2 linked regions of the Homo sapiens genome follow. The protein of the gene in region 2 interacts with the protein of the main gene of each other region in a biochemical or structural test. Each region holds a gene or a part of one and is shown on either strand. Other genes may lie near its edges.

What was found.
Region 1: the proteins of COPRS (region 2) and PRMT5 form a complex in vitro, tested with the Homo sapiens proteins (3 studies listed by BioGRID, with this or other methods).

What each region holds. Positions count from the first base shown.
Region 1 is NC_000014.9:22,920,007-22,926,388, forward strand, and holds the end of PRMT5 (protein arginine N-methyltransferase 5), read right to left. Parts: intron 6,291-6,382; coding exon 6,127-6,290; intron 5,035-6,126; coding exon 4,873-5,034; intron 4,704-4,872; coding exon 4,626-4,703; intron 4,532-4,625; coding exon 4,473-4,531; intron 4,436-4,472; exon of another isoform or gene 4,387-4,435; coding exon 4,264-4,386; intron 4,178-4,263; coding exon 4,002-4,177; intron 3,402-4,001; exon of another isoform or gene 3,155-3,401; coding exon 3,045-3,154; exon of another isoform or gene 2,963-3,044; intron 2,830-2,962; coding exon 2,736-2,829; intron 2,554-2,735; coding exon 2,437-2,553; intron 2,235-2,436; coding exon 2,170-2,234; intron 1,115-2,169; exon of another isoform or gene 1,051-1,114; coding exon 898-1,050; 3' UTR 523-897; downstream 1-522. UniProt on the Homo sapiens protein: Arginine methyltransferase that can both catalyze the formation of omega-N monomethylarginine (MMA) and symmetrical dimethylarginine (sDMA), with a preference for the formation of MMA.
Region 2 is NC_000017.11:31,856,241-31,863,148, reverse strand, and holds the start of COPRS (coordinator of PRMT5 and differentiation stimulator), read left to right. Parts: upstream 1-3,904; 5' UTR 3,905-3,949; coding exon 3,950-4,048; intron 4,049-4,186; exon of another isoform or gene 4,187-4,328; coding exon of another isoform or gene 4,329-4,391; intron 4,392-6,283; coding exon 6,284-6,350; intron 6,351-6,908. UniProt on the Homo sapiens protein: Histone-binding protein required for histone H4 methyltransferase activity of PRMT5.

The DNA.
Region 1 (6,382 bases), on a different chromosome or scaffold from region 2:
GACCTGACTTCCAATTCTGACTTGGATACTAATATCACATCATTGTACCCATTTCAAACTCCCCCTCTGTAAAATGGAAAATTGGACTAGATGATCTCTTAGGACTTCAAACTGTAACCCTGTGGTTTTATTCAAAAAAAACAGGTAGCTTCTTGCTGGAGATTCCTGGATGGATTCCAGTCTTCCCAAGAGGTAACAAAGGAGAGGTAACCAGTTGCCCGTGCAGTAGCTCAAGAATACAGAAGAGAAACTGGCTTCACTCACTATTCCATCTTTTTCCAAGGTGGCAAACTCTATGCCTCCTCCCCAGAGAAAAGCCTAACTGTAGGTTCTAATGGACAAGAGCTCACTGTAGCTGGTCAGAAAGGCCTATATCCAGGACTACAATAGTCATTGCTCAGCTTCCTAAGTAGGGAATACAACTAGGCCCCTTTGGGTCTTGGATAGGCTAAGAGGACAGATCTGAACATGCCTGGGTCTAAGTGAGGTGTGGGAAAATAGTGGCAGGGGGCAGCATGGTCGTGCAGTAAAGGGCTATAACTTTATTTGTATTTCCTCTTACACAAAACCATCAAAACAAGAACAGAAAAAGGCTGAAAATCCGTTCAAACCCCATGTTCTCAGGGATATTCCAGGGAGTTCTTGAGGCTGAGTGCGTAGCTTCAAATCCAGCACTAATTCCTCACCCCCTGGCCTGAGGTCTTCATAGATTGGTGGCTTGAGCCCTGCAATTAATTATAATCCCTTGCCCACCTTGATGTAAGGCAGGAAAGCAGATTGAAATGCTCCTCTCTGATGGGCAAGGGGAATCACAGCCCATAGATGTACTGCACCTTCTGTACTACAGGAGCAGAACCTGAAGCTGCTTCCAAGGCTCTGGACACTTGGCACGCAGGGCTAGAGGCCAATGGTATATGAGCGGCCTGTGGGGTTATGAATAGCAGAACAGACTGGTGCTGTCACAGCCCACTCATACCACACCTTCTTGGAATTGCTGCATCGCCAGAAACGCACACAGATGGTTTGGCCTTCACGTACCGTTATGGGCTGCTGTAAGAAGAAAGACAGGAAGGTTCAGGGTGAAGCTATGAATTATACATGGCAATGTATTAAGGTAGGTGTGGAGATAAAATGATAAACATGACAAGACTGTCCCAACCCTCATGAAAGTTATTTGAAGCCTATCAGAACACAAATAATCAAAGGTGTGGTGAGAGCTGTGAACATGTACAGAGTCAGAAAAACACCTATGAAAGGGAACACTAACCTAGTCTAGGAGATCAGAGAAAGTTTATCTCACAATAAAAATGTTTAAAGAAGACCTAGAAGATAGGTTAACTGTGTGAAGAGACAAGCAAAGAACTCTACAGGCAAGAGAAAGGCATGAAAGCCTGAGGTAGGAAAGAAGATAGACAATTAGAACAAAAAGAAGGTCCATAAGGCTGAAGCAGTGTAAGCAAGGGGACAGTAGCTGCAAAGGCAAGCAAACACTCGATCACATCAAGTCTTACAAGCAATGTCCCAGATTTTGACTTTTATCCTAAAGACAATGGGAAGGCATTGAAGAGTTTTAAGCAAAAAAGAGAGATAAGATCAGGCCAGGCGCGGTGGCTCACGCCTGTAATCCCAGCACTTTGGGAGGCTGAGGTGGGCGGATCATGAGGTCAGGAGATCGAGACCATCCTGGCTAACACGGTAAAACCCCGTCTCTACTAAAAATACAAGAATTAGCCGGGTGTGGTGGCTGGCACCTGTAATCTCAGCCTCAGGGAGGCTGAGGCAGGAGAATGGCATGAACCCGGGAGGCGGAGCTTGCAGTGAGCCGAAATTGTGCCACTGCACTCCAGCCTGGGCGACAGAGTGAGACTCCGTCTCTTTAAAAAAAAAAAAAAAAAAAAGACAGCAAGAGAGATAAGATCAAATTTGAGTTTTTAAAAGATGACTCTTGCTCAAAGTAGAGAACAGACAGAAGAGTAGCCAGAGTAGATGCGGGAAAGCCAGGCAGAAGGCCACTCCAAATACTCCCAACACCTACCACTGGGATCCAAGAGCATATGAAATCAGGAGAACATGAGTCATAGTCAACTATCTTCCTGGGAGAAGGAAAGAAGCACAACACCAAAGGCAAAGGTTACTGCTTAACTAGAGAGTCTTAAAAGCAGTTCCTACCTTAATAGGGAAGAGGATGGGAAACCATGAGAACATCCCAGGAGAGTGAGTCTCTGGACGGATACCTGTGTGGACAAAATAATGAAAAAACAGAGGTCTCCATGGCTGTGACTTTTGCCTATGCTGAAGAGGGTCTCTTCTCTAATCACACAAAGATCTCCATTCATTGAGCACTGGGCCCCCCATAAATCTAAATGACACATGTACATATAAGCTGCCCAGGAAGCACACCCTCATACTCTGCCATCTACTGCCATAGACACTCACTCAGAGTGATGTCCTGATAAAGCACAGTCTCAAAGTAGCCGGCAAAGCCATGTAGTACTGTGTTCACCTCCACAGGAAATTCCAAGGTGCAATAGCGGTTGTTGTCAATCATAGGATCTGTCAGGAAATAATTATGTGGGTGACAAGGGGCCAGAAGCTCTAGACAACTTGATAAAGCATGAGCAAGACCCAGGAAAGGAAGAGTAGATAAGGCAGACTAGGGACAGTAAGGGAAGAAAGCAGGAGGAAGGAAGAAGCCCGTACCCCTCTAGTCAGAGGACAGCCATAAAAGAACCTACCTCTGTTGGGATGGCTGAAGGTGAAACAGGGCTGGGGTGCAGAGAGCTGGTGGAAGTTGTGCAGCCGTACCACATAAGGCATCTCAAACTGGGCCTGTCAGAGACAGAAAGAGAGAGAGAGTGTTGGGGAAGACACACAAGAGAGAACTACTTCCCCAAGGATTAAAAAAAGTTTTACTTTAGTGCTTCCCCAATCCCTAACTTCTCCTTCACCTCTTCATCCCCAGCAGAAGAAAATAGCTGATGCAAATACAGAAAAAGAAGAGGACTAAAGAGTACCACTTCTTTCCAGAGAGAGTGGTTCTTTACCTCAGGGTCACGGTCCTTCTCCCTACAGGCTCGGACCTCATTGTACAGCTTGGAGGAAGAGATGGGAGCCAGAAAGGAAGTGTACTCCCCGGGGATGCTCACACCATCATCTGCACAGCAGGAGAGTCAAATTAGTTCCAGAGGGAGGGAAATGGTATGTCTGTACTAACTGAAGGATCAGAAGGATCAAACCTCCCATGTCAAAACCAACCAACGTTGGCATGGGCATGGAAGAAAGAGACAAATGCATGTTGTCACATTACTAAGCCAGCCTGCTTCCAACTACTGTCATGGAGGATTCCACTACTAGGTTAATTTACAGAGTCACACAGATTAAAACTGAAAGAACCCAAGATAGTCTAATCTGGTGGTTCTTAACTTTTGTGGGGTCACAAAGTCCCACAAAAGTTCCTGATGAAAGCTAAGCTCAGGGTACATATGTCATATTTATTTATTTATTTATTTATTTATTTATTTATTTGAGATGGAGTCTCGCTCTGTTGCCCAGGCTGGAGTGCAGTGGCACAATCTCAGCTCACTGCAACCTTCTCCTCCCAGGTTCAAGTGATTCTCGCGCCTCAGCCTCCCGAGTAGCTGGGATTACAGGCGTGCACCGCCACGCCTGGCTAATTTTTGTATTTTTAGTAGTGATGGGGTTTCGCCATGTTGCCCAGGCTGGTCTCAAACTCCTGACCTCCCGCCTTGGCCTCCCAAAGTGCTGCAATTACAGGCATGAGCCACCGCGCCCAGCCCACTCCCTTCATTTTACAAATATGAACACTAAGGTTTGGAGAGATGACTTCATTTGCTAGGGGCACAGAGGCAGTGAAGCAGTGGCTCTCAAACTCATATGATGTGACCCAGGTCCAACCCACTTTCCCCTAAACCCTGTACCCTCCTCCCAGGTTGCTGTCTCACCCATCATCACCCTCCACCTACACCCCAACCTGGGGGCACCTTTTAGGAAGTGCTGGGCTCCATCCAGGCACTCAGGCGACAATTCATTGTCAGCAAATGAGCCCAGAAGCTCACTGACAATGATGTCTGCTTTCTCTGGAGCCACCCATTCCCTCATGTCTGATGAGACTACGGTCACTTGGCTTCCCCATTCTTCAAACTGCCAGTTCTCTAGCCTGAAACAGAGACAATAAGGTAAGGAGAGATGTTAAGGAAATTTGGCAATGAGGACTAACTTCCCAGCAAGCAGGTTGCTACTCACGTCACCACGGCATTTGGGTTTTTCTCCACAGCATACAGCTTTATCCGCCGGTCGGCCTGCTTGGCTGCCCGCAGGGAAGCGTTCACCAGGGGTCCCCGTCCTGCTCCCAGCACCATCAGTACCCTAAGAAAGAAAGGGAAGAGTCAAGCAGACTTGGCATATACAGATATAGGTATGCAAGTCCCTGAGATTGAGGGGAAAGCACTCACTGGACATTGGTATCCTTCTCCTCTTCTGGTACTCGGTCTAGCAGACATTTATAGATGGCCTGGAGGGAGGAGAGAATATCCCATGGTTGTAATCCCATCCTCCCCAGGTCATGCTGGCCCTGTGCTTTCCTCACCCTGGGCACCACACAGTACCTGCTGGTACTGAGAGTATTTGATGGGGTCCTTTTCAAACACTTCATATGTCTGAGATTCCAGATTGTCCATCAGTGGCTGATGAATGAGGAAAAGGACAAAGTTAGCCAGTTTCTGGCAAAGGACAATGCACTAAAATATCAAAAACTTTCCACTGCTTTCTGAGTTTTAGTAAGATTTGGAGGCATATATTCTCAAGAAACATTTTCCATCCCACCTTCCTCCTCTAAGTGCACTCCAGACCCACCTGAAGCGGGGACTGCAGATAGTCTTCATAGCCCTTGGCAAAGAGTTCATAGGCATTAGGTGGAGGACGGTTCTGGCTTAAGTATTCCAGGTATTGGAGGTAGGAGCAGAACTCCTTCTCTGAGTGGTGGTTGGTGCCTGTGATGATGAACTGCACCTCCAACTGTGAGAAAAGTCAGACCATCAGACACAGCCCTCAAACCAAGATTCTGGAATATTATGGTATATGGCCAAAGAGCCCTAGTGTAAAATAAGGCCCAGATCAACAGTTCTCTTTTTTTTTTTTTTTAAAAAAAAAGATGGAGTCTCGCTCTATTGCCCAGGCTGGAGTGCAATGGCGTGATCTTGGCTCACTTGCAACCTCCACCTCCCAGGTTCAAGCAATTCTCCTGCCTCAGCCTCCCAAGTAGCTGGGACTACAGGTGCGTGCCACCATGCTTGGCTAATTTTTGTATTTTTAGTAGAGACGGGGTTTCACCATGTTGGACAGGCTGGTCTCAAACTCCTGACCTCAGATGATCCATCCGCCTCAGCCTCCCAAAGTCCTGGGATTACAGGCGCGAGCCACTGCACCTGGCCCAGACCAACAGTTCTCTAGCGTCTGTCCCAATACCAACAAAGGCAGCATGAGGCTTCAGTAAACTTATAAAAAGCCCCCTTGGCCGGGCGTGGTGGCCCACGCCTGTAATCCCAATACTTTGGAAGGCCGAGGCGGGTGGATCATTTGAGGTCAGGCGTTCAAGACCAGCCTGGCCAACATGATAAAACCTGTCTCTACTGAAAATACAAAAATTAGCCGGGCAGTAGTGGTGCATTCCTATAATCCCAGCTACTCAGGAGGCTAAAGCAGAAGAATCGCTTAAGCCTGGGAGGCAGAGGTTCTGGTGAGCTGAGATGGTATGGCTGCACTCCAGTCTGGGTAACAGAGTGAGACCCTGTCTCAAAAAAAAAAAGAAAAAAGAAAAAGCCCTCTTATGCCATGAAAGTATCAACACCCAAACAGCCTCATGGATCCTTGCTGTAACTTCCTAAATGAAACCTTCTGCAAAGTTCTCATGAGGTTTGGTTTGTTTTGAAAGGTTTCTAGGGCTACTACTGGCATTTACCTTTTTGTTCTCAAGATTCCCAACTTCACTGAAATTGCTCCCCAGAAACCAAAGAAAAAGAGTCAGCCTCACAGGAAAAAACGATCATACACAGGTAAATAAGGCAAGATGTATAGCTGGACTACCTTTAGAACCCTCCTACCACTCACCTTGAGGAGCCGGAAGATGAGCCTCTGGTGCATCTTAGAAAGAACAGGAAATCCCTTCTTATTGGTCAGGAAAATGCTAGTGGGGAGAATGGCTGCTTTGATGGGCTCCCCAAGCCAGCGATCAATGACATGATTAGATGGGAGGTCAGCCCCAATTTCAAGAGCTACATGAGGCAAAAGAAAAACTGTCAACCACTGCCAGGCAAGAAACCCTTCCTTGCTCCTTTGCGCAAAATCTGTTTACTTCTTTAAGAGA
Region 2 (6,908 bases):
GGCTGGTCTTGAACTCCTGGACTCAAGTGACCTTCTCACCTCAGACTCCTGAGTAGCTGGGATTATAGGTGCATGACACTGCTCAGTTTGATGTGCTAATCTGATTCCAGTAAAGAGAATTGCTGATTTAATGTTGAGGCCCGATCTTCCACAGGTCCTAAATGTTTCCCAAAATACATGGATAGCATACGACTGGGTTTTTTTAAAATTATCCCAGGTCAAGCATGAGTATCTCTAATCTCGACCTAAGAGCCAGTTAAAATGAAGGAGAAAGTGGCCAGGCATGGTGACTCAACGCCTGTAATCCCAGCACTTTGGGAAGGCTGAGGCAGGCGGATCACCTGAGGTCAGGAGTTTGAGACTAGCCTGGCCAACATGGTGAAACCCCGTCTCTACTAAAAATACAAAAATTAGCCAGGTGTGGTGGTGGGTGCCTGTAATCCCAGCTGCTTGGGAGGCTGAGGCAGGAGAATTGCTTGAACCTGGGAGACGGAGGTTGCAGTGAGCCGAGATCATGCCATTGCTACTCCATCCTGGGTAAGAAGAGCGAAACTCCTTCTCAAGGAAAAAAAAAAAGGAGAAAGTACAGTTTTGTTGGTTTATTCTCATTATAAAAGATACGTGGTATGCATTTGTTCTGGAAAATATGGAGGAAATAGAATAGTGTGGTAAAAAAAAGCATCCTGTCACTGGGAGAAGCTTTCAGTGTAGCTTATTGTTACGTTTCACTTAGTATTGTTTTTCTGTGTCATTAAATAGCCTTAAAAACATTTAATGAATTCGTAACATTACATTGTAAAAATGAGCCATAATATATTTTACTAATCCTCTGGTTAGACTGTCTTTTTTTTTTTGAGATGGAGCCTTGCTCTGTCATCCAGGCTGGAGTGCAGTGGCTCCATCTCGGCTCACTGCAACCTCCACCTCCCGGGTTCAAGTGGTTCTGGCTCAGCCTCCCGAGCAGCTGGGTGGGATTACAGGCACCCGCCACCGCGCCCAGCCAATTTTTGTATTTTTAGTAGTGCGGGGGTTTCATCATATTGGCCAGGCTGGTTGCGAACTCCTGACCTCATGATCCACCCGCCTTGGCCTCCCAAAGTGTTGGGATTACAGGCGTGAACCACTAAGCCTGGCCTGGACTGTCATTTCTAATTTTTTTAAAAATTAGATAAATGCTGTTGATGAAGATTCTTGTCAATCTTTGTTCACATCCCTGGCCATTTCCTTAGGAGATTGACATCCGACAGTGGAATTACTGGATCAAAGGATACTGCTTTTAGAGAATACTGATATGTATTGCTGGTTTGCTCCTTCTTTCAAGCAATACATGAAAGTGTCAGTACCCTTACCTGTACTGGTGTAATTATATCTTTTATTTTTACCATTTTATAGGTGAAATGTGATATGTCATTGTTTTACCATACTTTGATATTAGTGAAGTTAGTGTATTTTATGTTTCTCATCTTTTTACATCCTTAGACTATTTAAAAATTTTTTTTCTTACTAATTTATGAGTTAATTTTTTTTTTTAAATTGGACAAGTTCTTGCTTTGTCACCTAGGCTAGAGTGCAGTGGTGTGATCATGGCTCACTACAGCCTTAACTTCTGGGCTCAAGAGATCCTCCCACCTCAGCCTCTTGAGTAGCTGGGACTGCAGGTGCACACCACCATGCCTGGTTAATTTAAATTTTTTTTTGTAGAGACTGGTCTTGCTATGTTGCCAGGGCTGGTCTCTTAAACAGTTGGGCTCAAACAATCCTCCTACCTCAACCTCCCAAAGTGCTGGTATTATAGGCATGAGCCATTGTGCCTGGCCAGAGTTTTTAAAAACATATTCAGAATATTAATATCTTGTTTCTCATTTGTTGCAAATAATTTTACCCCCAGCCTTGTTTGTGGTGATTTTTTTTTTTTGAGACAGAGTCTTGCTCTGTGGTCCAGGCTGGAGTGCAGTGGTGTGGTCTTACTGCAACCTCTGCCTCCTAGGTTCAAACAGTTCTCCCTGCCAAAGCCTCCCAAGTAGCTGGGATTATAGGCACCTTTTGTGGCGATTTTTGATGCCCAGAGGTATTTTGTGTGTGTATGTGTGATGTCTGTTTTTAAAATGCTTTGGAAGCTCTTCCTGGTGCTGAGAACAACTCTTTTTCCCCAAGCAGTTAATTTTGCCAACACTATTTGGGCAGTTATGTTTCTCTCTGCTGATTTGTGATGTTACCTTTATTATATATTAAATTTCTATGAGTATTAGAGTCTACTTTAGAACATTTTTATTTTAAGCTTTTGTACTGTTTTCTTTTTCTTTCTGGTTTTTTTTTTTTTTAGACCAAGTCTCACTCTGTCGCCCAGGCTGGAGTGCTGTGGGGCAATCTCTGCTCACTGCACCCTCCACCTCCCGGGCTCAAGTGATTCTCCTGCCTCAGCCTCCCGAGTAGCTGGGATTATGGGTGTGTGCCACCACGCCTGGCTAATTTTTGTATTTTTAGTAGAGATGGGGTTTCACCATGTTGGCCAGGATAGCCTTGAACTGACCTCAAGTGATCTGCCTGCCTCGGCCTCCCAAAGTGCTGGAATTACAGGAGTGAGCCACCGCGGCCAGCCCCTGTTTTCTTGTCATTTGTTTTAAAATAAGAAAAAAATTCCTCTTTTTCCTGTCCCTTAAGTCCTGGGATGTTTAACATTCTTAATCTTATTTGGCACTTTAATTTTACGAAAGAGATATGTAGATTAGGGAGCAAAGAGGATAGTGGTAGTCTCCTTAACACAAGGCTATAAGGGTGGTCACCTGGGGTCATCACATCCCTGTATCTGATTCTCAATATTGCAGGTTATGAAAACACATCTAGCTAGTACACCTAGAGTTGCACTGTTAGAAACAGTAGCTCCAAGGCACATGTAGCAATTTAAATTTATTAGAATTATTCAATTTATTCACATTGGCCACATTTCAAGTGCTCAGTAGGTATATGGTTACTATATTGGACAGTACAGATAGTAGAACTTTCATTTCCACTTCCACCATTAAAGAACGTTCTATTGGACATTGCTGACCTAGAGGCAGTTAGCCTTGGGGATACTGACTCCTGTGTAGGAACATCTACATATAGAACAAAAATAATATCGAATATTGTGTGTCAGTTTTATGCTAAATTTTTTCAAATGCCTTTTGTGTTGTACAAACAACACAGTCTTTGAGGGGGATGAAGGAAGAGGGTCTCATGTCCTGATGTTGACGTGATTAGCACACCTTGAGCTGGTTTGTTATTAGAGGTTAGGCACTGTGGGGAAGGCAGGGAAGGCTGTCTTTCCAGTTGGGCTGTTCCCAGCTCAGGCCCTGCCTATCCCCAGAAGCCACCTTTCGAGGCAAAATGGGAAATAATTAGGTTGTCGGTATCAGGCGTTGAGCATGGAAATACAGGAATCCCGAATGTTCAGGATTATTATGAGTAAGCGTCGTGGCCTGTATTCTGTGTCCACTGCATATTGCAGTTTGTGTCTTAATCATCTATCTTGGTTTCTAATGGATTAACTTCAAAGACGATCATTAGCTCAAGGTGGAGGTCACTGGGTTGCTCATGTGTCTTACCCACGCGGGGTTTTGAAGCTGGAGCACACCCCGAGTGGCCGAGTAGGGTACGCTTGGCGTTTCACACGCAGCTAGTCGTGCAGCCTTAGGATATGCACCGAGAGGAGTTTCCAAAATCCGTCTCCGAGATTGTTTCAGATTTCGCGCTGGGAGGGAGGGGCGGGCTCCGCGAGGCCGCGCGCCCCGCCCCCTGCGCCGCCCCGCCCCCGCTTGCTCGTGACACCCCCGCGCCCCGCCCTCTTGGCCGGTACCCACCCCCTCCCCAGGCTGATTGGCGCTTCTGCGGCGGATCCTCGGGCGGGCAGCCGGGCCGGCGCGTCACGTGGCCCACGGCGTCCAGGGCGACCAGCCGCGGGCCGCAGGGCATGGACCTTCAGGCCGCCGGGGCCCAGGCGCAGGGGGCCGCGGAGCCGTCTCGGGGCCCGCCGCTGCCTAGCGCGCGGGGGGCGCCCCCCAGCCCGGAGGTGAGCGCCGCGTGGGGGCCAGGAGCAACAGCCAGCCGCAGCCTGGGGCGGGAAGTCGCGGGGCCGGGCTGGGCGGGGGCCGCGGGGCCGGGGAAGCGCCTCTGGCCGGCCTCGGGCCGCCCCGCGACACGGAGCGCTGTTTGGGCTCGCGCTCGAGCTGAAAACGGCCAGGCCGCGGGGCCGCGGGGCTGCGGGGCGGGGAAAGCCGAGGGCGTGGGTGGGCGCTCTGGGTCAGCAGAGACGGCTGTCCGCCCGCTGGGCGCCGCTGCGGATTTGGTAAATGGGAGGTGACGCTGGTGACCGAGAGCCGGGGCCCGCTGCCAGGAGCCTGGGCGAGGGCCAGGTGAGGGCGGCGAGGAGAGGGACTTGACTTTACAGACCTGTGGACCTCTGTCCGTTGGTGGGGATGCCAGCTAACCCTGAGCCCCAGATGTCACATGCGCGCTCCCCCTTCTCCTTACTGAAACCAGAAAGGCCCTGTTTGACGCAGGGTTTCCAGAAACTTGTTTTCATGTAAGCTAGACAGCTCCTGGTTTTCCCGAGAACGTTACAGACCGTTATTACAGTTCTTACCTGTCCTTGTTTACAGTCTGTACCGGCTAGGTGCTGAGCGGCTTGAAGGTAGGAACCCTCTGTTAGGGCTGTTTGCACAGCCTAGCATAGTGCCTGGCACAGGAGATAGACATACCGACTGGATGAATGATGCCTCAAAGATGGTACTTAGCCAAAGTAAGATATGAAAAATGCAGCGACACTTACAAAGAAAATTACTTTGGAGTGCAGAATAGAATGGGACTAATTTTGTCAGGGCATAGCAGGAAAGGATCAAGGTGAGAGGCTGGTGGTGTCTGCAGAGGCGTGGAGATGAGAAAGTGCAGGGCACATGGCCTGGAGTTGGGTCTCAGAGCATGCAGAGAACTATGCTCAACAGGTTGATGGGAGTGGGAGAAGAGGGGACGTGCGAATGCCATGGCTAATTTTGTGCTCTCTCAGTGGAGGGCTGTTGAAGGTTTTGAGCAGAGTAGTGATTAATTCTGTAAGGCTGGGCCAGATGGCTGGATGGGAAGGTGGTTAGGAGGCCGTGGCAGTGGTTTAGGTGAGAGGTCTGACTTCTCCTTGGGCGGCAGTGACCAGAGGTTGTCACTAACTACAGGGAGTGGAACTGAATTATTAAACCCAGACATGACTAGATAATGAATGCTGATTGGAGCAGGTGCCGAGTACAGTTTAGATGTAGCAGAAAAGATGAATTTAAATTCAAGAAATGTTACATTCTTGCCACATGCCAGGTGTTTTCATAAATGGTGTCTAATCATAAGTCCCCTGCAGGGTCAGAACAGTCACCCCTAATTTCTGGAGAAGAAAACTCAGGCACAGTAATTGAAGTGATGTGTTCAAGGTCACACTCTGAATGGATGGCAGAGCTGGGATCAAAATCAGGTCTTTTATGCAGGCAGGGAACATTTCGTGATTCATTAGAAAGAGGTCTTGGAGGTCATAGGGTTTCAGGAACTTCTGAGTGATGGGAGCAGAGAAGCATTTGGTTGGCTGTGCGGGAAGATTTTCAGTTAGATTAGAAATACTGCCTTCAGTGCTCAGCATTGCAGAGGAATTATAAAGCTTCCCCCACCTCAGTGTGTTGGTGAGGAAACAGAGAATTTGATAGAGTTGTTTACTAGCTATAAAGTTGTTAAGTAACTGAAAAGGTAAAACGTGTACCTGGGGGTGGCAACCGCAGGGAACAGCTACCAACCTATGGCTGAAGGAACAAAGAGATGAAGTTGATTAAAATTTAAAAGCTTAGGGAAAAGGCTCTGCAGAGCTGAAATTCCAACCTTTAAGGAGAAGGCACTGCCCCAGCTGATGGTAGGGGGTCTCTGAGCTTGGAGGAGAGTCCTGAGACCCAGACCTCTAAAGAGAAGGTGCAGTGATAAGACTGGCTCTGCAAGAGTTCGCAGAACTGTATACTGGATTCTGTGGCCACTATAGGAAGGCATTCCTGCTGCCACGGTGAAGTGTCATGAGGTGATGCCTACATGAATAGGAAGGAACAAGGCCCATCTCCCTCCAGCCTTGCTCAGTTTAACAGGGCAAAGTAGAAATGTGGGTGGCAGAGTCCCAGCCCTGCATCACCAAGGGGAGTATGGAAGAGTGGGTGGGGTTGAGATGCAATAGCTGAATACTGGGCATACCCCAGATACCCAAGTCCTTGGTAATCATTTCTTCTTCCTGCAGGCTGGCTTTGCTACAGCTGACCACTCCAGTCAGGAGAGAGAGACTGAGAAGGCTATGGATCGACTAGGCAAGTAGATGGCAGAGACGGAAGTTGGGGAGACCAAGGATGTGAGGAGAGGAATAGTCCCTCTGTCTCATTTACCTTCTCTTTTAGCCAGTCCTCTCTGCTGCTTAGTGGCCTTCTCTGCCCAGTTGAACAGTAACCTCCTTTGGAAGCCTTGCTTGGAGCTTCCTTAAGGGAAGTCCTGAACTTTTCTTATGTTCAAATCCATCCTTCTACCGAGAGAAACAGCTTGAAACGGTGAAAATAGTACAGCAGTCTCACCTTATTCCTAGGGGATACATTCTAAGACCCCCCCGCCCCAATGGATGCCTGAAACTGCTTTTTTTTCCTCCTATATATACTATTTCTGATATGGTTTAACTTATAAATTATGCATATGTGATTAATAACAATAGTAATATAGAACAATTATGCCAGTATACTGAAAGTTACGTGAATGTGTTCTCTCTCAAAATATCTTTTTTTTTTGAAACGGAGTCTCGCTGTGTCACCAGGCTGGAGTACAGTGGCACGATGTCAGCTCACCGCAACCTCCGCTTCCCAGGTTAAAGCAATTCTCCT